Homo sapiens: one gene and its partners. The protein of the gene in region 4 purifies or fractionates together with the protein of the main gene of each other region. This does not show direct contact. Each region holds a gene or a part of one and is shown on either strand. Other genes may lie near its edges. The genes, in order: CLEC2D, ZNF70, SH3TC1, ILDR2, GRAMD1B, PCDHAC2 and PVALB.

Evidence for each region.
Region 1: the proteins of ILDR2 (region 4) and CLEC2D purify together in Homo sapiens (co-immunoprecipitation; one large-scale study listed by IntAct). This does not show direct contact.
Region 2: the proteins of ILDR2 (region 4) and ZNF70 purify together in Homo sapiens (affinity purification with western blotting; one study listed by BioGRID). This does not show direct contact.
Region 3: the proteins of ILDR2 (region 4) and SH3TC1 purify together in Homo sapiens (affinity purification with mass spectrometry, with the first as the bait; one study listed by BioGRID). This does not show direct contact.
Region 5: the proteins of ILDR2 (region 4) and GRAMD1B purify together in Homo sapiens (co-immunoprecipitation; one large-scale study listed by IntAct). This does not show direct contact.
Region 6: the proteins of ILDR2 (region 4) and PCDHAC2 purify together in Homo sapiens (co-immunoprecipitation; one large-scale study listed by IntAct). This does not show direct contact.
Region 7: the proteins of ILDR2 (region 4) and PVALB purify together in Homo sapiens (affinity purification with mass spectrometry, with the first as the bait; one study listed by BioGRID). This does not show direct contact.

Annotation. Positions count from the first base shown.
Region 1 is NC_000012.12:9,696,883-9,700,053, forward strand, and holds the end of CLEC2D (C-type lectin domain family 2 member D), read left to right. Parts: 3' UTR 1-2,671; downstream 2,672-3,171. UniProt on the Homo sapiens protein: Receptor for KLRB1 that protects target cells against natural killer cell-mediated lysis. Inhibits osteoclast formation. Inhibits bone resorption. Modulates the release of interferon-gamma. Binds high molecular weight sulfated glycosaminoglycans.
Region 2 is NC_000022.11:23,748,313-23,752,354, reverse strand, and holds the start of ZNF70 (zinc finger protein 70), read left to right. Parts: upstream 1-1,242; 5' UTR 1,243-1,644; intron 1,645-4,042.
Region 3 is NC_000004.12:8,223,290-8,226,789, reverse strand, and holds part of SH3TC1 (SH3 domain and tetratricopeptide repeat-containing protein 1), read right to left. Parts: intron 1,616-3,500; coding exon 1,574-1,615; intron 1-1,573.
Region 4 is NC_000001.11:166,920,041-166,923,540, reverse strand, and holds part of ILDR2 (immunoglobulin-like domain-containing receptor 2 isoform 1 precursor), read left to right. Parts: intron 1-348; coding exon of another isoform or gene 349-350; exon of another isoform or gene 351-440; intron 441-731; coding exon 732-948; intron 949-1,090; coding exon of another isoform or gene 1,091-1,169; exon of another isoform or gene 1,170-1,310; intron 1,311-2,161; coding exon 2,162-2,834; coding exon of another isoform or gene 2,835-2,873; exon of another isoform or gene 2,874-3,500. UniProt on the Homo sapiens protein: May be involved in ER stress pathways with effects on lipid homeostasis and insulin secretion. With ILDR1 and LSR, involved in the maintain of the epithelial barrier function through the recruitment of MARVELD2/tricellulin to tricellular tight junctions.
Region 5 is NC_000011.10:123,611,769-123,615,268, forward strand, and holds part of GRAMD1B (protein Aster-B), read left to right. Parts: intron 1-992; coding exon 993-1,096; intron 1,097-1,686; coding exon 1,687-1,890; intron 1,891-2,976; coding exon 2,977-3,067; intron 3,068-3,500. UniProt on the Homo sapiens protein: Cholesterol transporter that mediates non-vesicular transport of cholesterol from the plasma membrane (PM) to the endoplasmic reticulum (ER).
Region 6 is NC_000005.10:141,004,476-141,007,975, forward strand, and holds part of PCDHAC2 (protocadherin alpha-C2 isoform 1 precursor), read left to right. Parts: intron 1-3,500. UniProt on the Homo sapiens protein: Potential calcium-dependent cell-adhesion protein. May be involved in the establishment and maintenance of specific neuronal connections in the brain.
Region 7 is NC_000022.11:36,800,203-36,803,619, reverse strand, and holds the end of PVALB (parvalbumin alpha), read left to right. Parts: intron 1-2,701; coding exon 2,702-2,730; 3' UTR 2,731-2,917; downstream 2,918-3,417. UniProt on the Homo sapiens protein: In muscle, parvalbumin is thought to be involved in relaxation after contraction. It binds two calcium ions.

The DNA of each region.
Region 1 (3,171 bases), on a different chromosome or scaffold from region 4:
CACCACCTCATAAAGATATCTGCTTTCCTGTTTATTATAACACATCTTTATTCATAATAGCCAAGATACGGAACTAACTGAAGTGACCATTAACAGATGAATGGATAAAGAAATTGTCATATATATAAAACACACACATTATATACATACATACATATATATATATATATAAAAAATAGAATATTATTCAGCCTTGTAAAAAGAAATCCTGTTATGTTGGGAACAAGCCCCCCAAAATCTGGCCATAAACTCACCCCAAAACTGGCCATAAACAAAATCTCTGCAGCACTGTGACATGTTAGTGATGGCCATAACACCCACGCTGGAAGGTTGTGGGTTTATGGGAATGAGGGCAAGGAACACCTGGCCTGCCCAGGGTGGAAAACCACTTAAAGGCGTTCTTAAGCTACAAACAATAGCATGAGCGATCTGTGCCTTAAGGACATGTTCCTGCTGCAGTTAACTAGCCCAATCTATTCCTTTAATTCGGCCCATCCCTTCATTTCCCATAAGGGATACTTTTAGTTAATTTAATATCTATAGAAACAATGCTAATGACTGGCTTGCTGTTAATAAATACATGGGTAAATCTCTGTTCTGGGCTCTCAGCTCTGAAGGCTGTGAGACCCCTGATTTCCCACTTCACACCTCTATATTTCTGTGTGTGTGTCTTTAGTTCCTCTGGCGCTGCTGGGTTAGGATCTACCCGACTGAGCTGGTCTCAGCACTGTTATTTGAAACAATGTAAATAAACCTATAGGGTTTATTATATATACTAAGTGAAATAAGCCAGACACAGAAAAAAAATGTTGCATGATCTCACTTATAGTGAAACTTAAAAAAAAAACCCAAATACATAGAAATAGAGTAGAATGGTGGTTACCAGAGATGAGGAAAATACAGAGACACAGGTCAAAAGATACAGAGTTGCAGTTACAAAGGGTGAGTATGTCTAGATATCTAACATACAGTATGAGGACTATAATAGTATTGCACTGTGTACTGAAAACTTGATGACAGATTTTAGATATTCTTACCACACAGACAAAAAGAAATGTAAGTATGTGAGATGAAGCTTATGTTAATTAGATTAAGTGTATGTACATAAAAACATCACATTATACACATCAAATATATACAATAAAAAAGCACATTGGGAGATACATGATAAATTTCTATCTGCAGTTGCTATTTGCATTTTTAAAGGATATTTTTATTTTTTAAATTTTTAGCTGACAACTGTATAATTATGGAATACAATGTGATGTTCTGATATATGTGTACACTATGGAATGATTAAATCAAACTAACATTTCATCATCTCACATACTTATCATTTTCTGTGGTGAGAACATTTGAAATTTATTCTCTTGACAATTTTGAAAGATCCAATACACTATTATTAACTATAGTCACTATGCTGTGCAATAGATCTCAAAAGCTTATTCCTCTTAACTGAAACCTACTACCCTGTGACATGTGGGGAACATCTCTCTATTCCCCAGCCCCAGTCCCTAAATGTTGAATACACAATGGGGAAAAAATAGTCTTCAATGAATGGTGGTGGGAAAATTGTATATCCACATGCAGAAGAATAAAATTGGACCCTTACCTCCTACCATATATAAAAACCAACTGAAAATCGATTAAAGACTTAAACTGTAAAACTACTAAAAGAAAATATAGGGAGAAAGCTTCACAACGTTGGTCTGGGCAATAATTTTTGGATTTGACCTCAAAAGTAGATGCAACCACAGTGAAAATAAACAAATGAAATTGCATAAAATAAAAAATGTTTCTGCACAGCAAAGGAAATAATTAATGGAGTAAAGAGACAACTTACAGATTGGGAGAATATATTTCCAAACTATTGTTGGGGCTCAGAAACGGATACCCTAACATATAGTGATTTGACAGGTGGAACTAAAGAAGACTCGAGGTCTCTCTGACCTCCTCCTCAACCTCTGTTTCTTAATCCTCTGTTTTCCCAGAGCACAGGAGGAAGTTCTCTGAAGTTCCTTTATCTGCTTTAAGTTCAGACTCACCAAATAAGAAAACAGTTAATTCTGGTGCCTTCCATGGGTTTTCATTAACTGAAGTCATATTGTAGGAAAAAGAATGAAGTCTCTTAACCCACCTGGATAGATTTTTCTCACAAACCATTGTCTTCTCTGCAAGCCCAGTAGACTTTGTCCCAGGCCATTTATGTGATCTTCACCCCATTAAGTTCTCCCCAAATTATTTACTCTTCCCCCAAAATCACCCACACTTCCCCATCTCCCTCTCCCCTAAGGACAAGGGTATATCACCATCTATACCCCATTGCTTGGTGGGGTGATCACTCTGATTCTCTGCATGCATTTTTATAGATTTGTTTGCCATTTATCCTATTAATCTGCATTCTGTCAATTGTGGCAAGTTATCAGCATATTTTTTAACTTTTAATTATTCTTAATGGAAAGACACTTCTGTATACACTGGAAATCTCAGGAAATTTCTTTTTTCCTTAAGCTTAATTGAAATGTTTACTTTTCAGTAAAATTTCAAGCTTGAGTAATGTTCATGCCTGCTTTTCATTGAAATAGAATGAAAAGGTTGCACAATATTATTTTCATGAAATTACTTCTAGTATAATTCTGAATAAACACTTTGAAAGGCAGTGAACTGTAAATATATTACAGCTATCTCTTATTCTTCAGGGTGGGTCTCAATTATGTAAAAGATGATTGGCTTTCTGTTTTAAGTAATAGTCATTTTGAAAACACTTTAAAACTGTCAAGTGAAGTGTGATGGCTAATTTTATATGTCAACTTGACTGAGATAAGGTATACTCAGCAGGGAAAGCATTATCTCTGGATGTGTCTATGAGGGCTTTTCTGAAAGAGATTGATGTTGGAATCACTAAGCTGTGTAAAGATGATCTACCTTCACCAATGTTGGCAGGCATCATCCAATCCGTGCAGGTCTTACCCAAACAGAGCAAAAAGTCAGGTAGGGTAAATTTATTCTCTTCTAAAGCTAGGGCATCCATTTCTTTCTACTCTCAGACATTGGAGTTCCCCAGTTTCCCAGACCTTTGGCCTTACACTGAGAATTATGCTTTGTTTTATTTAGGCATATTTTAATAATACTTCATGTATTGGTCAGGAAGACATTTCCTGGTTCTAAGGC
Region 2 (4,042 bases), on a different chromosome or scaffold from region 4:
GACAGAGCATTAATGGGGCAGGAAGGCAGGTGTGTGTGGGTAGCATTGGAGGCACTCGAGCGCCAAGGCTGAGGGTGCTGAAGGCAGGTGGGCGGCTGGGGCAGAATCCTTTTTCCCAGGGACAGTGTGTTCTCCTGATGTCCTGTGATTGGGCCAAGGTCTGCGGAGGGAAGCTCTCCCACAAGCTGGGCAGCTGCACCTGAGGGGGGGGTGTCATGGGCAGAACACTGGGTGGAGGGGCCAGTCTTGCCATCAGCAGCAAGGAGGGGGCGGAGATTCCTTTTCTTTTTTTTTTTTTTGTTTTTTGAGATGGAGTCTCGCTCTGTCGCCCAGGCTGGAGTGCAATGGCACTATCTTGGCTCACTGCAACCTCCGCCTCTCAGGGTCAAACGATTCTCCTGTCTCAGTAGCTGGGATTACAGGCGCTTGTCACCACTCCCGGATAATTTTTAGTAGAAACAGGGTTTCACCATGTTGGTCTGGCTGAGTCTCGAACTCCTGACCTCGTGATCCACCCGCCTCCGCCTCCCAAAATGCTGGGATTAAAGGCGTGAGCCACCGCGCCCGGCCAAGGGGGCGGCCATTTCAAGAACACATTCCTCTTCCCTCCCGGTGCGCCTGAGAGGAGGCGCTTCATGTCGAAGTCAGCCCTGGGATGCAGAGAGTTGGGGGGCTCAGGGTCCTGGGATGGTCTCGCAGACACTCCTAGTTCTTCGCCTGCCCCTTCTCATCTCTATTTCTGTGGGGGCGGGGAGGGCAGACAGGAACAGGGCTACCCTTGAAGCAGGTTGGGGGAGGGGGATCCTAACAGGACCCCGGTGCCTGTGGACAGTGACAGGGTCGACAGCTCTGGGGCTCCACTCTCCTTTCCCTGAAGACCCCAGCTGCCTCAGTGGCTTCTGGCTTGCACCCAGCACCAGCGCAGATGCCCCGAGTGCCGGCGGCTCGAGGTCGGCCCGCCCGTCCGGACCTGTTTCCTCCTCTGCTCTCCTGCCAACGCCTGCCCATCTCTGTTTCCCCCACGTCCAGCACGCGCTTCGGGGACGGCCAGAGCCACCATGCCGACTGGAGAGACTCTCCTGATTCGGGTCCTTGTGTCCCGGGGCCCGGGCGGCTTCGCGCGGCGACAACCGGCGCGGTGGGACCACCGAGACGCCGGGACCTCCGCGCGGCCTAGAGTGGTCCCGGAAGTGCCCGCGGGCCGGGGGCGGGGCTCTGGGTGCTCGGGCGGCCGCGGGCTCCGCGTCAGCAGCTGCTGTGGAGCCAGGCAGCGTCGGCCGCGTCGGCCGCGGGTTGGAGCAGCTCAGGTGCGGCCCCGCCCCGCCCGCCTGCGGCCCCGCCCCGGCCCAGGTGAGCTGCCCCGCCCCGGCCCAGGTGAGTGGCCCCGCGTCCGCCGGTGTGACCTGAGTCCGCCTGACCACCTGTCCCTCCGGTGGCCCTGGGTGTGCGTGTCCCCAATCGCGGGGAAGCCTGTAGGGGCGCCACGTCGCCGCCTGGGCAGCGTGTGCGGGTCCGTGGCAACTCTTGGGCCCCCAGCCAGGAAACCTTGACTGCACTAAGAGTTTGCAGGGTGCCCAGGCCCTAGGGACTCTCTGGAGGATGGGATGACAGATGCAGGAGGACCCGGAGAAGGCCCCGACAGAGGTGGGAAGCATGGAGTTCCAGATCTTTGCATTTTCGGTCCAAAAACACTTATCATGTTGTGGGAGACAGATAAAGGGTTGCCAACTTTTTTCTGAGTGGAGACTTCAGGGTGTAGGGGCTATATAGTGGGAATGGAAAACCTCTACGGAGGGAAGTTTGAGAACACCAGGACTTAATGGGTGGGCGGAGGAAGAGTTGCAATCTAAAGATATCAAGAAAGAGAACTTGGAAGCCATGAAAATTGGGAAGAAAGCGAGGGTGGGGATGGGGTTGGGGGGTAGCTCAAAGCTTTCATGCACCTAGGTAGGCAATGTGGGCGGGTGAAGGGATATTGTCACATCTTCGTTTTTCAAGAGAAAGCCAGAAACCTACTGAGTTTTAAATATTGGTAACTAAGGAAAATGAACAGGAAAAGCCAAACTCTTCGAGAGCCAAACATAACATAGCAGGATCTTCAGGCTGCCAATTTGCAACCTCTGAAATGAAGGGTTTTGAGAAGGAGGTATTGGAGAGCAGTGCCAGATGGGGTGGGAAGGTGAAGACCGAGAAGAGAGGGATTGGCAATAAGGAGGTCATAGAATGCCAGAGCTGAGGTCCCAGCTGAAATCGGAAACTCGAAATTTGTCGTGGTGCCATACATAGTTGTATGATTTTTCTTGGCAACATTTAACAACTTAGGAGGAACTGGCCGAGAAGACTGGGACTTAGCGGCTAGTTGCAGCCGGACGAGGAGGTGAGGAGCATGGTGCTAGAGCGTGAGAGTTGAAGTGATGCGCATAGTATGGAGAGTCTAAGCTGGATGGAGAAGGGGTGGAGCTAGAAAAGGAGAACTACAGTAAAAATGGCTTGGATTTCATGAGGTCGAAAAGCACAAATTGAGTGAGAGAGCTGGAAGAGTTGGAGATTATGGGTTGCTGAAGAGGAGGGGGAGGGTGAGAGGAGTTGAAGTGATCAAAGAATTTTTGAAAATACTTTAGGGCTGGGCGAGGGGGCTCACGCCTATAATACCAGCACTTTCGGAGGCCAAAATGGGTGGATCGCATGAGCTCAGAAATTCGAGACCAGTCTGCACAACATGGCGAAAACCCATCTCTACAAAAAATACAAAAATTAGCCAGGTGTGGCACGTGCCTGTAGAGCCTGTATTCCCAGCTACTTTTTTTTTTTTTTTTTTTTTTTTTTTGAGACGGAGTCTCGTCCTGTCGCCCAGCCTGGAGTGCAGTGGCGCGATCTCGGCTCACTGCAAGCTCCGCCTCCTGGGTTCACGCCATTCTCCTGCCTCAGCCTCCCAAGTAGCTGGGACTACAGGCACCTGCCACCACGGCCGGCTTTTTTTTTTTTTTTTTTTTTTTTTTTTTTTTTGAGATGGAGTCTCGCTCTGTTACCCAGGCTAGAGTGCAGTGGCGCGATCTCGGCTCACTGCAACCTCCGCCCCCCAGGTTCAAGCGATTCTCCTGCCTCAGCCTCCCGGAGTAGCTGGGATTACAGACGCGCTGTAATTTTTGTAATTTTAGTAGAGACGGGGTTTCACCATCTTGGCCAGGCTGGTCTTGAACTCCTGACCTCATGATCCACCCACCTCGGCCTCCCAAAGTGCTGGGATTAGAGGCGTGAGCCACCGCGTCCGGCCTTTTTTGTATTTTTAATAGAGACAGGGTTTCACCGTGTTAGCCAGGATGGTGTCCTAGCTACTTAAGAGGCTGAGATAGGAGAATCACTTGAACCCAGGAGCCAGAGGTTCCAGTGAGCTGTAATCACACTACTGCACTCCATTCTGGAAAAAGAAAATACTTTAGTTCAGTGCTCTTTTTTTTTTATATCCAGTCGGTCTATTGGCTGAAAAATCATTTAAAAAAATCATTTCTGGGCTGGGCGTGGTGGCTCACACCTGTAATCCCAGCACTTTGGGATGCCAAGGTGGGCGGATCACCTGAGGTCAGGAGTTCGAGACCAGCCTGGCCAACATAGTGAAACCCCATCTCTACTAAAAATACAAAAATTATCCGGGCCTGGTGGCGGGTGCCTGTAATCCCAGCTATTCAGGAGGGTGAGGCAGGAGAATTGCTTGAACCCAGGAGGCAGAGGTTGCAGTGAGCCGAGATTGGGCCATTGCACTCCTGGCTGGGCAACAAGAGTGAGACTCCACCTCAAAAAAAAAAAAAAATCATTTCTGCTGGGCATGGTGGCTCATGCCTGTAATCCAGCACTTTGGGAGGCAGAGGTGGGAGGACTGCTTGAGCCCAGGAGTTCAAGACCAGCCTGGGCAACATAATATTATCTCATCTCTACAGAAAAATTAAAAAATTAGCTGGATGTGTTGATATGCCCCTGTAGTCCCAGCTACTTGAGAGGCTGAGGTTGGAGGATCAGTTGAGCCGGGGAGGTCAAGGCTGCAGTG
Region 3 (3,500 bases), on a different chromosome or scaffold from region 4:
GAACTCCGGCACTGTGGGGACAGGGAAAACACAGGCCCATGGCCCAACTCTCCTATGAAATCACCCTCCTGTCCTCCTTTGTTGCCCACCTGACAGCATGGTTTTAGGAGACTATGTGTCAGCTCAGTGATCCCTCAGAGATGCCTTTCCCTTTAGAAAGAATCAAAGCCTTCTAACTGCACCCAAGTGTACGCAGCACTACGACTACAAATGTAATTTTTGTCAGCATACTGGGCCCCTCGATGGGGTACAGGAATCCATGAAATCCTCAACAGCCAGTCAGAGCTACTGATCAGCTCAAAAGCTGCTATGCAAAATTGGTAAAGCTACCCACAGCAGAGGACAGGGATGTTGTAGCCATGTACCCAGCTCCATGCAGGGAAATGGACCATCCCTGCAGGAAGGATGGGAAAGCTTCCAGGCTCCTGTGACCACCTTCACCTTGGATGGTCTGAAAACCTGAAGCCCGCAGTTCCTAAAGGGTTAACAAAGGCCAGGCTGCCCACGCAGCCTGCTGGCGCCTGCTGGCTTTGGTGGATTCCCAGCCAAAGCCCCCTCCCAGAGGTGAGCAAACAAGCGCATTTCCTGTTGGAAAACCTGGGACGAAAGGAGACATTACTGGGAAGGAAAGAATCTAGATTTAAATAGACTCTCTGTTTCAAGCTCACATGTAAAAAATATTTTCACTACAAACTGTCTCCTTATTCATCTGTAAAGCCTTGGAATTAAAAAAAAATTACATATGATTTAGAGGCAAATGTGACTTGACTACACTAGATTAGCTAAGAAATCTCCCTGCCCGGCAGAGGCAAACAGCCCCTCCCAGCTATTACCCTGGCCTTGGGGGCAGCTGGAGTCACTCGCATTTGCTCCAGGGACTTCGGCAGAGGGTGGATCCACCCCCTCCCCCAGGAAAACCTACAACAGCCTTCCCTTCCCCACTGGCTTCCAGGCCTCCTCTGGGACCTCCTGCCTGCATCCCAAATGTACTGGAATGGATCCCATTCCCAGGGAACTTCCGAGGGCTCTTGGGGTGTCCACATCCCCAGGCTCTCCCCATGCGGACCCTGTGTGAGGGGAAGAGACAGAGCTGTAGAGGGGAGATGGAAGGGTCTCCCTCAATCAGCCCCTCAGGAAGGAGCAGACCCTTGAGGGACCTCAGTTGAGGCCCCTGCAACCTAAGGCTCTGAATTCTGCCACCCACTGAGGGCAGTGTGGCCTCCCATCTCTGAGGCAGAGCAGAGGGCAAGCTGCAGCTTCTCCAGGTCATGAGAAAGGAACCCACAGCTACAAGTGGACCCAAGCAGTGGAAAGGATGCTCCATCTTGGGCGGGGACCAGGCGGGGGCCAGCATGTTCATTGGAAGAAGTGCGGGACCCCACGGCCTCCAGTGCCACAGTGGACGGGAGGTTCAGGCCCACCTCAGGCAACCTCCCCCAAGCCCCCAGCCCACACCACAGAGGGGTGACAGCCGCACCCAATGCCCACCGTGCTCAGCTTTGTCACCTCCCCCAGCGTTACCCCAAGGCCCAGCTCATAACCAGAGGAAGCCTGAGCCACTGGCAAAACCCACCTTTTTCCTGCGGCTGCTCGGTCTCAGCTTCCTCTACTGAGTCTGGCAAGGGAGAAAAGAGAAGCAATCAACACCCCCAGCCAGTACCTCTGGTCCCCTGCCAGGTTGAGCTAGTGTCGATGTTGCAGGGTGAGAGCATTGCTGGGTGCAGGTATTGAGGGCTGAGATGTTGCAGGGTGCTGGTGTTGCGGGCTGGAGTGTTGCAGGGTGCAGGTGTTGCAGGCTGAGGTGTTGCAGGGTCAGGTGCAACCAGCATAGGAGCACTGCTGACACCTGAGGGAGAGGCACCAGCCAATGGGCCAGAGAATTCTCATGTTCTAGCATCTCCAGGCCTCCACCCCACCCAACCCCTGTGGGGATTCCACTCTCCCGTCTTCTGGGGACATCCTCCCATCATCAGTGGGGAGCACGCTCTCGGCTTCCATCAGCTCCATCAGGGAGCAGGGCGCATTGAACAGGCAGCAGCTCTGAGTCCGACAGCCCAGGGATCAACACTGCTCCAGTGCACCCCCACCCTCTTCATCCCAGGGCAGGCAGCTACCGGGTCTCAGTTTCACCCCCGTAAAGTGGCTGACACTAACTGCTTACTGGGTTTCCGTGGAGGTCAAGTGAGAAATAGCTGTAAAAAGATGTGGAGATGTGGACAGCGTCAAGCGCTGTGAACTGCGATAACAGGTGTGCAGTTCTGGGGAGCACCCTGCAATGCCTCCATCTCACAACACCTGCATCCTGCAACACCCCCACTTATGACACCTGCACCCTGCAATGCCCCTGCCCACAACACCCCACGGTGTGGAGGGTCCCAAACCTGCTTCCTAAAAAGGACAGGAGATACCATCCAGGGGGTCTGAGCCTTGATATGCTGAGGTCAAGTCTAAGTTTGTCCATTCAGGAAGGGAAGTTGATTTGTGGGATCTACAAATGTTAACTCTAATACTGGTGGGAGAAAAGGTCTTGTAATGCATGTCATCGAGCAAGCAGGAAAAAAGTGTGTGTGGAAATGTATCTGTTTATATATGTGTGTGCATATGTGTGTGAGGGGGTGCATGGATATGTATGTACGTGTGCGTGTACACCTTGTGAGGAAGGTGCATGCACATGTGTGTATGTGTGTATACACCTCTGCAGGCACATGTGCACACATGTCTGCATGGGTGGGTGTGTGTGTGTGTATACTTGTGAGTGCATGTGTGCATGCACACAGTGTGTATTTACATGCGTATTTGTGTGTTTATGTCTGTGTTTGTACATGTGCACATAGGTATACAAGTAGGTGTGTAGATGCTGGGCACAGTGGCTCACAGCTGTAATCCCAGCACTTTGGGAGGCTGAGGCTGGCGGATCACCTGAGCTCAGGAGTTCGAGAACAGCCTGGCCAACATGGCGAAACTCTGTCTGTATAAAAAAATGCAAAACTAATCCAGGGTGTGGTGGCGCGTGCCTGTAGTTCCAGCTACTTGGGAGGCTGAGACACGAGAATCGCTTGAACCCGGGAGGCAGAGGTTGCAGTGAGCCGAGATCATGCCACTGCACTCCAGCCTGGGCAACAGCACAGGACTCTGTCTCAAAAAAAAAAAAAAAAAAAGTGGGTGTGTAGCCACACATTTGTGTTTATCTACACCCAGCAGATAGCACGGCCTCTGCCATGTTTCTTTATGTTGTGGATGACATGCCAACTTCATCTATGCGTTGCACTGCAGCCCCCAGAGAAAGCTTTTGCACACAGAGGGGCACTGAGGTCAGAGGGACTATCTCTGTCCTTAGGAGACGGCAGCCCTGGGGTCCCACCATGACACTCCCTGGCAGCCAGGTGACCAGGCCACACCACAGTCTGGGTTCTTTCTCTTGTGACAAGGAGAAAAGTCACTCTCACCCAGGCAAAGTGCAGTGGGCAGAGGGCTGGGCCCCAAACAGGAGCCCTCAGGGC
Region 4 (3,500 bases):
ACATACCCCTGGAAAACTTTTTTGGGAGAGGGGAAGAGGTCTGCCCAAGTGCTGGAAGTAGGCTTGGTGCTACTTGAGCAGGATCTTCCAGGTTCCTAAATGAGCATGGGCTAAGTCAGGGGGTATATGGATACTAGGTACAGGTTTCCCCTTGACTATTCAACTATTCTGTGGACTTCCTGCTCTGTGGGGAGGGGCACAGCCAAAGGAGGCCAGAATGCAGTGCCTCTACAGCATATGGCAGTACTGGCTCTGAAGGTCCATCTTAGGACTGGGCCAGCAGTAAGGAAGATGCTGTGATCTATGGCTTCTGTCTCTCTTTTTCTGTTTTTGGCTTAACATGTCTAGGATCAACACAGCTCATCACAGAATTATAAAGGAAGAAGAAAACATTTGAACAAGGATGATGATGTACTAGGAGGAGGCCAGCAACAGAGATCCTGAGTTCTGGAAAGCCTGCCTTAGGTGCAACAATAACAAACTTGTTCTCCTATTCCAAGAACAGAGCATGTAGGAACCTCCCTCTCTGTAAGCAAGTAGGCTTCAAACTGGAGCCAATGCCTGCTGAGCTAAGAATACAAACACCACTAGTTCAGGCTTACAACCCACCCTGGACAGCAATGAGGCAGGAGTTTCCTGGAGCCTAGGGTCTCAGCCCTTAACAGGATTCTCTTCCTGTCTAAAACAGAGTAACACAAAAAGCTCTATCATGCCTGATTTTGTCCCTGCAGATAACAACACCATCTCAGAACTCAGCTCCCTACATGAGGAGGACAGCAATTTCCGCCAGTCTTTCCATCAGATGAGAAGCAAGCAGTTCCCTGTGTCTGGGGACTTGGAGAGCAATCCTGACTATTGGTCAGGTGTCATGGGAGGCAGCAGTGGGGCAAGCCGCGGGCCCTCAGCCATGGAGTATAACAAAGAGGATCGAGAGAGCTTCAGGCACAGGTGATGGCTGTGAGGGGCAGGTCTGGTCGGTGTGAGGGGGCAGGAGCTGGAAGGCAGGGTAGATCGGAGGCAAGGAAGATGCCATCCAGTAGCATCTCTGTCTCCCATTCCAGGTTATCCTGACACATCTCTCTTTCTACAGGATATTGAACATCTCACATTTGTCAAGACAGGGAACACTTGTGACAACATGTGTAGAAGTAATTATTCAAGACCTTTGAAATGGGTCCCCTAGACCCTTTAATGAACATTAATATATCTCTGCCCTTCTCATATATTTTATCCTATAACCTCTACAAAATCCCACCCATCATCTCCATCTTTTTTTTGTTTTTTTCGGTAGAGACAGGGTTTTGCCACGTTGACAGACTGGTCTTGAACTCCTGAGCTCAAGCGATCCACCCACCTTGGCCTCCCAAAGTGCTGGGATTACAGGCATGAGCCATCATGCCTGGCCATCTCCCTCATTTTTGATCATTTAGTATATGAAAGGTAAAATGCCAAACACTTCTCTTACATTTAATTCTCATAACTCTAAAGGGCAGCTACTATTAATGCCCCTATTTTAAGCTGGGAAAATGGAAACTTCTAGGTGCTAAGGCACTTACCCAGGTGATGTGGCCTCCCACAACAATTGTGGGAGGCTAAGATTTGCTATTCCCCCTAAATAGCACCTTCACCACTCATCTGTCCTTTACCTTAAAAGACAGTGAACATTGCCTTTCCCTTACAAATTGCAAGTGTCCTTCTCCCCTCCTGCCCCAGTAGGTAACTTGGCCCTTGGCTCTGAGGGAAGAAAAGGCCTCTCTGTGTGTCACCACACATTACAGGGACTCCTGGGACCATAACTGTGTGTACTGACACCTGCGCTGGCTTTGAGGGTGGAGACGTGTGGCTGTCAACCCGAGGTCACAACATAATGACCAGAAGGCAGCCCCACGGTGGGTCAGTATTCCATAGGATACAGAATATGTTCTATCCACACAACCCCATTTTGATGCGTGGCACACGAGTGGAATAGACTCGGTTGCCCCTACTTGACGTTCTGGGGTGTGAGAGGAGCCTGGAATGCTTCATCCAGCCTGGAGCGGAGCTGAGGCTCAGGCCGAGGTCTCCTGAGCGTGGCCCCAGGACACGATGGGTGCTCTTGGGAGCCCTACCTGGAGCTCCAGGGAGGGACCGGCCGTCTGACCCCCTCCTTCTCTGCCCGCAGCCAGCCGCGCTCCAAGTCGGAGATGCTGTCGCGGAAGAACTTCGCCACGGGGGTGCCGGCCGTTTCCATGGACGAGCTGGCGGCCTTCGCTGACTCCTACGGCCAGCGGCCCCGCCGGGCAGACGGCAACAGTCACGAGGCGCGGGGCGGGAGCCGCTTCGAGCGCTCGGAGTCGCGGGCGCACAGCGGCTTCTACCAGGACGACTCCTTGGAGGAGTACTACGGTCAGCGCAGCCGCAGCCGCGAGCCCCTGACCGATGCTGACCGCGGCTGGGCCTTCAGCCCCGCGCGCCGCAGACCCGCCGAGGACGCGCACCTGCCGCGGCTGGTGAGCCGCACGCCAGGCACCGCACCCAAATACGACCACTCGTACCTGGGCAGCGCGCGGGAGCGCCAGGCGCGGCCCGAGGGCGCCAGCCGCGGTGGCAGCCTGGAGACGCCATCCAAGCGGAGCGCGCAGCTCGGCCCGCGCAGCGCCTCCTACTACGCTTGGTCGCCGCCCGGCACCTACAAGGCCGGCTCGTCGCAGGACGACCAGGAGGACGCGTCCGACGACGCGCTGCCGCCCTACAGCGAGCTGGAGCTGACCCGCGGCCCGTCCTACCGCGGCCGCGACCTGCCCTACCACAGCAACTCGGAGAAGAAGAGGAAAAAGGAGCCCGCCAAGAAAACCGTGAGACTGCGTCTGCCTCCCCTCCTCCGAGGGGACTGAGCGGGAGCCTCCAGGCAGGGCGAGCAGTGTCGCTGTCTGGGGGCCGGGGAGGTGGCGAGGCGGGAGGGTCCTTGCCGGAGAGGCCGCAGGGGCCTGCCTGGGCGAGTTCGTCCGCGGATGCTAGGCCGGGGGCTTTTTCAGCCTCACTCTGTCCAAGGCCAGATGAAGGAAGGAAGCAAGGGCTGGGAGAGTTGAAAAACAGGCAGAAAGTTGAAGGCGTGTATATGGTTTTACAGGGAGCATTAGGTATTTAACCAACTCAGAAGCCTTTAGCATCAGGGATCTCGGGAGCCATCACCACCACCGGCCTTTAGTGGGCTTCTGAGGTCTGTGTGCAGAATCTTCGATGCATCCTTCTATGTGCATTCCTCCCCAGCCCTGCTTGGGGCGAGGGTTTGTAACTTGCATCCGATTTCCAAGAACCCACATCCCAGAGAAGGCTAAGAGCCACTGCTGTTTGCAAAGGACAACTCATGTCTGTCCTCTTTTGATGTTTTATTGAGTGTAAACTGCATTGTGCCCGTATATGTGAAGGAAATCCTTTGGTCCCTATCCAGTTCATTGTCTCTTTTGTAAGTGGTCTTATATAGACTTCATTATTTTCAAAATGCCAAGAGCTGCCTACTC
Region 5 (3,500 bases), on a different chromosome or scaffold from region 4:
AGTACAGGCATTCTCCCATCTGGACATGGGTGGAGGTGGCATCCCTGAGGAGGGGGATGAGGCTGGGCTGGCAGCCTTAGTCACAGGGCGGGATGGGGCGGGATGGATTAGCTGGGAGAATCTATTGACAGATGCAGATGAACCTAAGGGGGAGGCAAAGAGCAGGGCTGCTGCATAGGAGAGAAAAGAGCTGATACTGCAGGGGGTATGGACAGAAGTGTGACCAGTGACTGGGAGCAAGAATGCTTGGAAAAGAGCAAGAGCTGGTGAGGTCTGGGGTGCAGTGGAGAGGCAGGAGCCAGGGCTGGCAGCAGATGATATTCTTTTTTTTTTTCTGAGACAGGATCTCACTCTCTTCCCCAGGCTGGAGTGCAGTGGTGTGATCATGGCTCACTGCAGCCTCAACCTCCACCTCAACCTCCCATTAGCTGGGACTACAGACATGACCCTGGCTAATTATTTTTGTTTTTGTAGAGATGGGGGTCTCACTCTGTTGCCCAGGATGACATACTTTTAAAGGTTAAAGTGATAAAAACCCAGAACTTGACTTAGACTTAAAAGTCTCTGGAGAAGGAGAGAATGACCCTGATGAAAGGATGAGCCGTCTTACTTTCTTTCAGTGTCAGTTTCTCAAAAGACTTGAACCTCAGGCAGAGCTTCCCCTTGCCTGGCAGGCAGGCTGCTGGGCCCTATGTGAGACCCCTGAGAGGAGGCAGTGTGCCATCATAAGAGAACTCTGGAGTCAGAACCCTAGTTGTTAGCCTTTGCTCTGCTTAAATATCCTACGGCTCAGTTTTCTTATCTATAAAATGGGGATAAATCCACCAGCTCCACTGACTTCAGAGGGTGAGATGGATGTGGAAGGACCTTTTAACTTGTAAAGTTTAGTACAAATGTGAAGCGGATCTGGCCTTAACTCCGAATTTCCCTTTTCCCAGCAGAGGCAGGCCCACCCAGGAAATGACTGATCTTGTGTCTGGCTTGCTCCTCAGGGTCTCCACAGAGCTGCGCTATCGAAAACAGCCCTGGGGGTTAGTGAAAACGTTCATCGAGAAGAACTTCTGGAGTGGGCTGGAGGACTACTTCCGCCATTTAGGTGAGCACTGCAATCCTTGCTGCTAGCTGGGCTGCAGAGATGGTAAACTGCACTGCGGCCGCCCACCATTCAGGGGAATGGTATTGAGAATAGAGGCAGAGACTGAAAGGTGAAGTAGTTTCATGAGGTACCCACACCTGCTTCAGAAGTGGACACCAAATTTGGCATGTATGTGGACAAGTGCATTTTTCTAGACTGTGTCTAGGATGTTTAAGAGATCATTGAGGGATCTATAAAACACCCCTCACCCCAAAAGGAACCACAGACCTAGTGATATAGGTGGCTCTGTGACGAGAAGTATTTGTAAAATGCCTGTGAATGCATCTATTTAAGACGTGTATGCCCCAAATTGTATACATGAGGGTGCAGATATTGGGAACATATGGTTCCTTGCAATGTTGAACAACCCCAGAGGAAGGGTTTGACTGGGGCTGGGTCCCACAAGTACCTCCTGAGGCTCATGGGCATCCCTGAGGATCCTCAACCCACCCAACCAACTTCCCAGAATACAGAATAGGAAAATGGTTCTGCAGAGAGTTGCATTGGAGGGCTGAAGGTGGCCTCTCCTGTGGTCCTTTTGTCTCTGATAGAGAGCGAGCTGGCCAAAACGGAGAGCACTTATTTGGCTGAGATGCACAGACAATCTCCCAAAGAGAAGGCCAGCAAGACTACAACGGTGCGGAGGAGGAAGCGTCCCCATGCCCACCTGCGAGTCCCTCACCTGGAAGAGGTGATGAGCCCGGTCACCACGCCCACAGATGAGGATGTGGGCCACAGGATCAAACATGTGGCAGGTGTGTGCCAGGTGGGGACAGGTCGGGTGGACTAAGCTTTGGGCTGGAGCTGCATGCCCACACCAAGGCACACACATGCACACTCATTTTGCACCTTGGCTATAATTTGTATATAATTTGAACGTAAGTCACTAAATCTGAGGCTCCCAATGCTCTGTTTCTCTTTGCTCTTTAAGTTCCTCAGCCCCAGCTGAACCCATATGTGTGCTCTAATTAACAAAAGCTGCCTTAGTGTTTATGCTTTCGTGTTGCCCTAGTTCCATGGCTACCTGCATAGGCTCAAGTATGAAGCTTCCAAGTTCTTGGGAAATACACTAAGGAGATCCCACAGCTCAGACCACAGAGATTACCTCATTACACAAAGATCAGGGAGACCAAGACAGTCCCCGTTCACTTCAACCCGCATGGGCCAACCCAGGCTTGCCCTCTCAGGCCGTGGACTCCCTTAATATTTCTTCCTCTTCCCACCCAGCCATTCACATCCTTGTCTTTGCTGAATCCTGGAAACCTGGGACTCTAAGGGGCCTTAGAGACCAACTAATTGAGTTGGATATGGACAGGGGAGGCAGAAGAAGAGGGGAGAGTGGGGGAAGAGTGCCAGCCTTCTGCATGCCGCCTAGCTTTACCCCTAGCACTTCCATGTTACGTGTTTTGCATTTAAGATTTCTGACTGACATTGCATTTGAGTAAACTGACTCTCAGAGAGCTTACATGACTTGTCCTCCATCATGTAGCTTACTAGGAATAGATCCAGACCCAGAAGCCAGCCGTCTTTAGTCCTAGCCCAATGCCACATCCTCTCCCATAGCTGAAGATCCCTTTGTCCTGGGCCTGTGTATCCTAGCTACATGGGCCTGTTGATTTTCTCATTTGTTCAATGATGACCTGACCCAACCCATGACCTTGCCCTTGAGGATTTTACCTTCTCCTCTTGGAGAGCTGGCAGTCTCCGCATATCGTTGCTGTCACAGTGTCATGGACATTTTTCCATCAGTCTCTGATGTTTGCTGTTTGACCAGTGTCCCCACCAGCAGTTGTTGGACTTGTGGGTCACCATGGTGATGGTCTCTTTAATTCTCCCCACAGGTTCCACACAGACGCGGCATATCCCGGAGGACACCCCCAACGGTTTCCACCTGCAGAGCGTGTCCAAGCTGCTGCTGGTTATCAGCTGTGTGTAAGGGATTCTAGGTTTTCCTATCCTGCCCTCACCACCTTCCCTTTCCAGCCTGGTGCCCCAGCCCTCGTCTCTTGAAGCATCTGAGCACCCTTACTGTTTGCCCTGGTTTTTGCCTTATCCTCTAGTCTTCTCTGTCTGGATTGGTTGCTCTGCCTGTTGCTTACCTCTTCGCTTCTTTTTCTCTGCTTTGTTCAGCATTTACTGTATGCTAGGCCTTCAGAAGAAAATGCTTCATGCAGCATCCATACCCTTCAGGGTTTCAGTTTCAAGTGGGTGAGAGAGACAGAACATTTGAAATTCCTGCACAGATGGTTAAATGCTAACAGAGAAATGCTAGAGGGCATTTTAGGAGTTCATTCCTTCATTAGATGTTCTGGGTGTCTGCTCTGTGCCAGGCACTGGAACTGTGCACTCATGGAGCCCACACGTT
Region 6 (3,500 bases), on a different chromosome or scaffold from region 4:
TGGATTAACTCTTGGCAGTCCTGCTGTGAGGGGCTCCCTCTGCCAATACACACAGCCATTAATGTCCTTTAACTGTGCAAGATGAACATATCTCTGTGTTCTGCATCTCCAGATGACAGTGCTTAGGCCTCATGCAGAGTCCTGGTTATGGTTGAAGAAAAATTTCCATTTTGGGCTCTGAGGGCAACTAAAGGACTGTGGAGTGGTGCTGAAACCCAGTTTTAGGTGCCGAATCAGAGGTTTTTAAATACATTTCTCTCTTTTGTCTCAGTCTCTTAGAGACAGGACCTGTATTTTAAAGGTAAACAGGCAGATTCTGGCTGAGCTCAATTGCAGATTTGATTAACTTAGATAGATCAAAGTCATTAGTCTCAGAGAAAAAATTTGTTTCTCATCCCTAAAGTGCTATTGTGTCAGCTCTGCCAGGGTGTAAGGAAAAGGGTTTGGAAGAGAGAAGAAAATTTCTTACCCTCTCTCGTCACTGCCTGCTGTAAATTTGCAGTATCATTATCTTGGTCTCCTAAGCCCTGAGAGCTGCATTATATATAATTGCCCATATGTGATACCATTTACTGAATTCTTGCATTGTGCTAAGGATCAAGCTTAGTACTTTACATGCATTACATCATTGTCTTTAGGGACCCCAAAAGTGCCTCATTGGAGAGTTGTTTGGTCTGCTAAAGAGTGGGTACCACTTTCACTTCTCACATCAGTCCTTTCATTCATTCATCCAGCAAGTATTTACTAAACACCTGTTATGGGCCAGGAATTGTGCTAGGCACTGGTGATACATTGGTGAATAAACAGATACATTTTTTGCCTTTGTGAATCTTACAGTGGTAGAGAATAATAGGCCAAGGGGGTGCTGCTTGGCTAGGAATGTCATAGAATGCCTTTCCAAGGAGGTTACATTTAATACAGACTTGAAGAGTGAGGAGTCATGCTAAGAATGGATGAGAGGCTCACGCCTGTAATCCCAGCACTTTGGGAGGCCGAGACGGGCGGATCATGAGGTCAGGAGATCGAGACCATCCTGGCTAACACGGTGAAACCCCGTCTCTACTAAAAATACAAAAATTAGCCGGGCATGGTGGCGCGTGCCTGTAGTCCCAGCTACACAGGAGGCTGAGGCAGGAGAATGGCGTGAACCCGGGAGGCGGAGCTTGCAGTGAGTCGAGATCGCGCCACTGCACTCCAGCCTGGGCGACAGAGCGAAACTCCGTCTCAAAAAAAAAAAAAAAAAAAAAAAAAAAAAAGAATGGATGAGAAATCATTCAAGACAAAAGCAAACCAGATGTGTAAAGATCCTGAGGCAAAAACAACTCCAAGGAGCCAGGTATGGTGGCCTGTAGTCCCAGCCACTTGGGAGGCTGAGACAGGAGGGTCGATTGAGTCCAGGAGTTTGAGGTTACATCAAGCAATGATTGCACCACTGCACTTCAGCCTGGTTGACAGAGTGAGAACCTATCTCTAACAAACAACAATAAAAAAACAATTCCAAAGAGTGTTTGAGGATCTGAAAGAAGGCCTGTATGGTTGGAGTATAATAGTAAGAGGGAGATTTGTAGATGAGAGTGGAGAAGAAATAAAAATCAGATTATTGAAGGGACTTATGTATCATGGTAAGGAGTTTTTTTTTTTTTTCTCAAGGCAGTAGAAAGCTTAAGCAGAGGAGTGATATAATCTGATTTATATTTTTAAAAGAGTTTGCTATATGTATGTTATGCCTCATTTTTTTTTAAATTTTTTATTTTTAGATGGAGTCTTGCTCTGTTGCCCAGGCTGGACTGCAGTGGCACGATCTCAGCTCACTGCAAGCTCCACTTCCCGGGTTCATGCCATTCTCCTGCCTCAGCCTCCTGAGTAGCTGGGACTATAGGCGCCCACCACCACGCCCGGCTAAGTTTTTTCTATTTTTTAGTAGAGACGCGGTTTCACTGTGTTAGCCAGGATGGTCTCAATCTCCTGACCTCGAGATCTGCCTGTCTCGGCCTCCCAAAGTGCTGGGATTACATGTGTGAGCCACCGCGCCTGGCTGTTATACATCAGTTTTTAAAGAGAGACATTAAGAAATAAAGATGACTCTGGCTACTGTGTGGAGGGTTGGAGAGAAGCAAAAGTGGAAGCAGACTGAATAAGGAGACTATTGCTGCAATTCATATAAGAGATGATGGTGTCCTGAAAGAGTGGTGGCAGTGAAAATTGGGAGAAGAGGACAGAGTCAAGATATATTTAGGAGGCAGAAATGACAGGTCTTGATGATGTATTATAAATGGAGAATGAAGAATAGAATAGAGAAAAATGAATAATTAGCTTTGAACTTTCTGGCTTGAGAAATGGGGTAAATGGGGTGTAATTTACTGAAACTGGAAAGATTTAGAAAGGAATAGATTCGAGGAATCAAGAGTTTGATTTCAGATTTCTTCAGTTTGGGATGCCCATGAGATTTCCAACTGGGGATACCAGATAGGCAGTTATACATGAGATTGGAGCACAGAGAGATGTGGGCTTAAAATATAAGTCTGCATCTCATCAGCTTATTCATATGGTATTTATATCTATGGATATGGCTGAGATCCCAAAAGGAGAGAGTGAAGAGAAAATAGAGAAGAGAGTCTAGGGCCAAACCCAAGGAAGCTTCAACACACAGATGAGGAGACTGACAAAGGAAACTGTCAAAGAACAGTCAGAGAGAAAGGTCAGGAGAATGTTTTGATGGTGGGGGCCAGAATATGCTGTCCCAAAATAAGAAGGATTGTTGAGCTGAAGGCAAGTTAAAAGAAGCAGATACAGGCTGGGTGCAGTGGGCTCATGCCTGTAATCTTAGCATTTTGGGAGGCTAAAGTGGACAGATTGCCTGAGCTCAGGAGTTCGAGACCAGCCTGGGCAACATGATGGAACACCATCTCTACTAAAATACAAAAAAAAAAAAAAAAAAAAAAATTAGCCAGGCATGGTGGCATGTGCCTGTAGTCCCAGCTACTCAGGAGGCTGAGGCACGAGAATTACTTGGACCTAGGAGGCAGAGACTGCAGTGAGCTGATATCTCGCCACTGCACTCCAGCTTGGGCAACAGAGCAAGGCTCTATCTCAAATTTAAAAAATAATAATCATGATAATAATAAAAGAAGCAGATATAGGAGAGGTCTTCTGCCCTCCCTGTATTTGCCTAAAAAACCATAAATTTACAAAGACAAAAGTTATCCTACTTCCACCTCCCTCCTCTGCCTCCCACCACCAGGGAGAACAAAGGTTAACCACTGAAGATAACTTTGGACTCTTATTGGCCTGGAAATGGTACTGCTTTACAAATTAGCCTTTATCTGCCATTCATTTGCCTTCCCCCAAGTAGCTACCCATTAGAGACTCAAAGTCCTTAAAGGTCTTTTCCTTTGTCTTACACTTCTTTAAAAATTTATTGTTCTTTGTTGAAGATGCTATATAAGCTGGAATTCTAAGCCACCTTTTTGAGAACTGCTCATTCTCTGGGTGTCTGTCAT
Region 7 (3,417 bases), on a different chromosome or scaffold from region 4:
CATCCATTCCTCATCCCTCCATCCACCCATTCCTCATCCATCCATCCATCCATCTACCCCCCATCCATCCATCCCTCTATCCCTCCCTCCATCTGTCCATCCATCCCTCCATCCATCCACCCAGAGCTTATTTATGAGCACCTACTGTGTGCCAGGAACACTGTGGCTGCCAGGAGAACAGTGAACAAGAGAGAGGCTCCCCTGCCCTCTAGAGTTTGCATTCTAGTAGGGGGAGACTGACAAAAATAAGTGCATAAATAAGATCATTTCAGAGAGTGCCAAGGACTATGAAGTAAATAAAAAAGGACTAATGCGATGGGATGGTGATATTTGAGCTGGGACATGTGTCACTCTATACCAAGGTCAAAGTAGGTCGGAAACTACAGGGATGAAGAAGGAAGCCTAAGAGCATTTCTAGCTTGAATCATGTCATGGTCAAGCTACTTAATTTTTGAGCCTCAGTTTCCCCATCTGTAAAATGCAGACAAAGGTGTCTCTCCCATGGAGTAGTCATGAGGATTCAATGAGATAATATATGCAAAATGCTTCCCACATTGGCATTCGATAAATGTTAGTTACTAGCTATAATTAATAAAAGTACTGCTAATAAAAGACATCTCAAAATAACCACCTGCCCCACCGAGGTCCTGGAAGATCACAGGCTCCTGGCTGAGAAAGCAAGCACTTTGACGCCTGCCCTATGGGAGGGATTCTGTACGAGTATTTGTTGTTTTGGTATTTATTTGAGACTCCATCCTTGGCACTGCTGTTACCACTCAGCCAGAGAGCCTGGAGATTTCAAAACCAGCTGGTGGACCCTCACTCTCTCCCACCCTGCATCCCCCATATCCAGGTCACCCACTTTTCCTATCCTAGGACAGCCTGGGGACAGGAAAGGATGATGTCTATTTCCTAAGTCAAACCTCAGGAAGGTGAGGCACCCAGGTACGTGTCCCTTCATCTAGCCAGGGCCAGTGCCAGGTTGTTTCTTTCTTTTTTTTTTTTTTTTTTTTTTTGTGTGAGATGGAGTCTCACTCTGTTACCAGGCTGGAGTGCAGTGGCACGATCTCGGCTCACTGCAACCTCTGCCTCCTGTGTTCAAGCAATCCTCCTGCCTCTGCTTCCCAAGTAGCTGGGACTACAGGTGTGCGCCACCACGTCCAGCTAATTTTTGTATTTTTAGTAGAGACAGGGTTTCACCGTGTTGGCCAGGATAGTCTCGATCTCTTGACCTCGTGATCCGCCCACCTCAGCCTCCCAAAGTGCTGGGATTACAGGAGCGAGCCACCGTGCCCAGCCCAGTGCCAGGTTATTTCTACAATACAGCATGTGTTGGTTTGGCTTTTGTGTGTGTGTGTTTTCACTTTTTTATTTTGAAATAATTGTAGATATACAGAAGAATTGAAATGATAGTACAGAGAGTCCTGTACACCCTTCACCCAGCTCCCCCGATGTTAATATTTTACATAACCACAGTACAATGATGAAAACTAAGAAACTGGATAGGTGGGGTTTTACATTTGTATTCCACACAAAGTCCAGGGAGGACGCAGCTCACCTCAAATGAGTCTCAGATACTTTTTGTGGCCTTTTTGAAGCCATTTCACGACCAGTTTTTTATTTGTCTCACCCAAGCAATTATTACTGGCCCCTCTCTTCACTCCACTGACAGATGAGGGAACCAAAACCCAGAGAGATACATTTTCCAGCAAATAGGGCCAGACTAAGCCTGGAAGCCCTAACTTTCAATCCCCAGCCTGTGCTCTCCCCACATCACAACACTCCATTTTCTTTTTTCTTTTCTTTTTTTTGTTTGTTTTGAGACAGAGTCTGACTCTATTGCCCAAGCTGGAGTGCGGTGGCACGATCTTGGCTCACTGCAACCTCTGCCTTCTGGGATCAAGCAATTCTCCTGCCTCAGACTTTGGAGTAGCTGGGATTACAGGCGTCCGCCACCACACCCAGCTAATTTTTGCATTTTCAGTAGATACAGGGTTTTACCATGTTGGCCAGGCTGGTCTCAAACTCCTGACCTCAAGTGATTCACCTGCCTCAGCCTCCCAAAGTGCTGGGATTACACGCGTGAGCCACTGTGCCCAGCCAAGACAACACTGCATTTTCTAGGGCGATGGGCACTTGCCTGAGACCCTACACTCCCCAGCAGGCTGAGACATGGCATCTCAGAGACACGTAGTGGCACGTGGCAGCAAACTCCTTGTCCTCTCTCATCTCCTGGGGAGAAAAACAGCAGAGAAGTCCAGAAATCAGGACCCTGAGCCTCAGTTTCTTCATCTGTAGAACAGGAACAATGCCAAAATGCACCAGACAGGACTATTGTCAGAGTCAAATAAGATATTGCATATAAAGTGTTTCGAATAGTGCCTGGCATATGATAAGCATTCAGAAAACTATTATTATTATTATTGCTATTGTTATTAGTGTAGTTATTATTAATGATTTTGGGTGTGGCATGGCATGATGAACCAAAAGATGTGGTAGGCCCATCATTTCCCACCTCACTTCACTCATCTGCTCATTCATTCATTTATTCATTCATTCATTTTCACACTTACGCTCTGGGGCTGCTGCAGCAGAAGCAAGAACCCAGAGAGAGCACCACCCAGGGCCCCGCAGTCAGGTGTGGACAGTCTCTCTTGCATCCCCGCCTCTGACTCACTTTCCTTGTCATTTTGTTCTGCAGAATTCTCCACTCTGGTGGCTGAAAGCTAAGAAGCACTGACTGCCCCTGGTCTTCCACCTCTCTGCCCTGAACACCCAATCTCGGCCCCTCTCGCCACCCTCCTGCATTTCTGTTCAGTTCGTTTATGTTATTTTTTACTCCCCCATCCCCTGTGGCCCTCTAATGACACCATTCTTCTGGAAAATGCTGGAGAAGCAATAAAGGTTGTACCAGTCAGACTCTGCTTGCTCAGGAAGACCCAGGCCTGGTCAGGCATTGGCTTTCCAGATGCATCTGGGCAGGGGGTGGGGGCTGGATTTCAACAGTTAGAAAAGTTGTGATAGGAGGGAATGGAAGGGAACAGTCTCTTTTCTGTTCTAAGTACTAAGCATGGAACTCTACAGAGGTTACCCACTTACTCCCTAAAACCACCCCATAAGGTAGGTGATGAAACTCCCATTCTCTGAAAAACTGAGTCTCAGAGAGGGGATGTGATGTGTCTAAGCCCACAAATACAGGATTTGCTAGTGTTGGGATTTGAATGCAGGTCCGTGGATGGGTAGGTGGATGGATGGATGGATGGATGGATGGATGGATGGATGGATGGATGGGTGGGTGGATGAATGGGTGGGTGGATGGGTGGGTGGATAGATGGATAGATGGATGGGTGAGTAGATGGGTGGGCAGATGGGTAAATGGATGGATGGGTGGGTGAATGGACGATGGATGAATGGGTG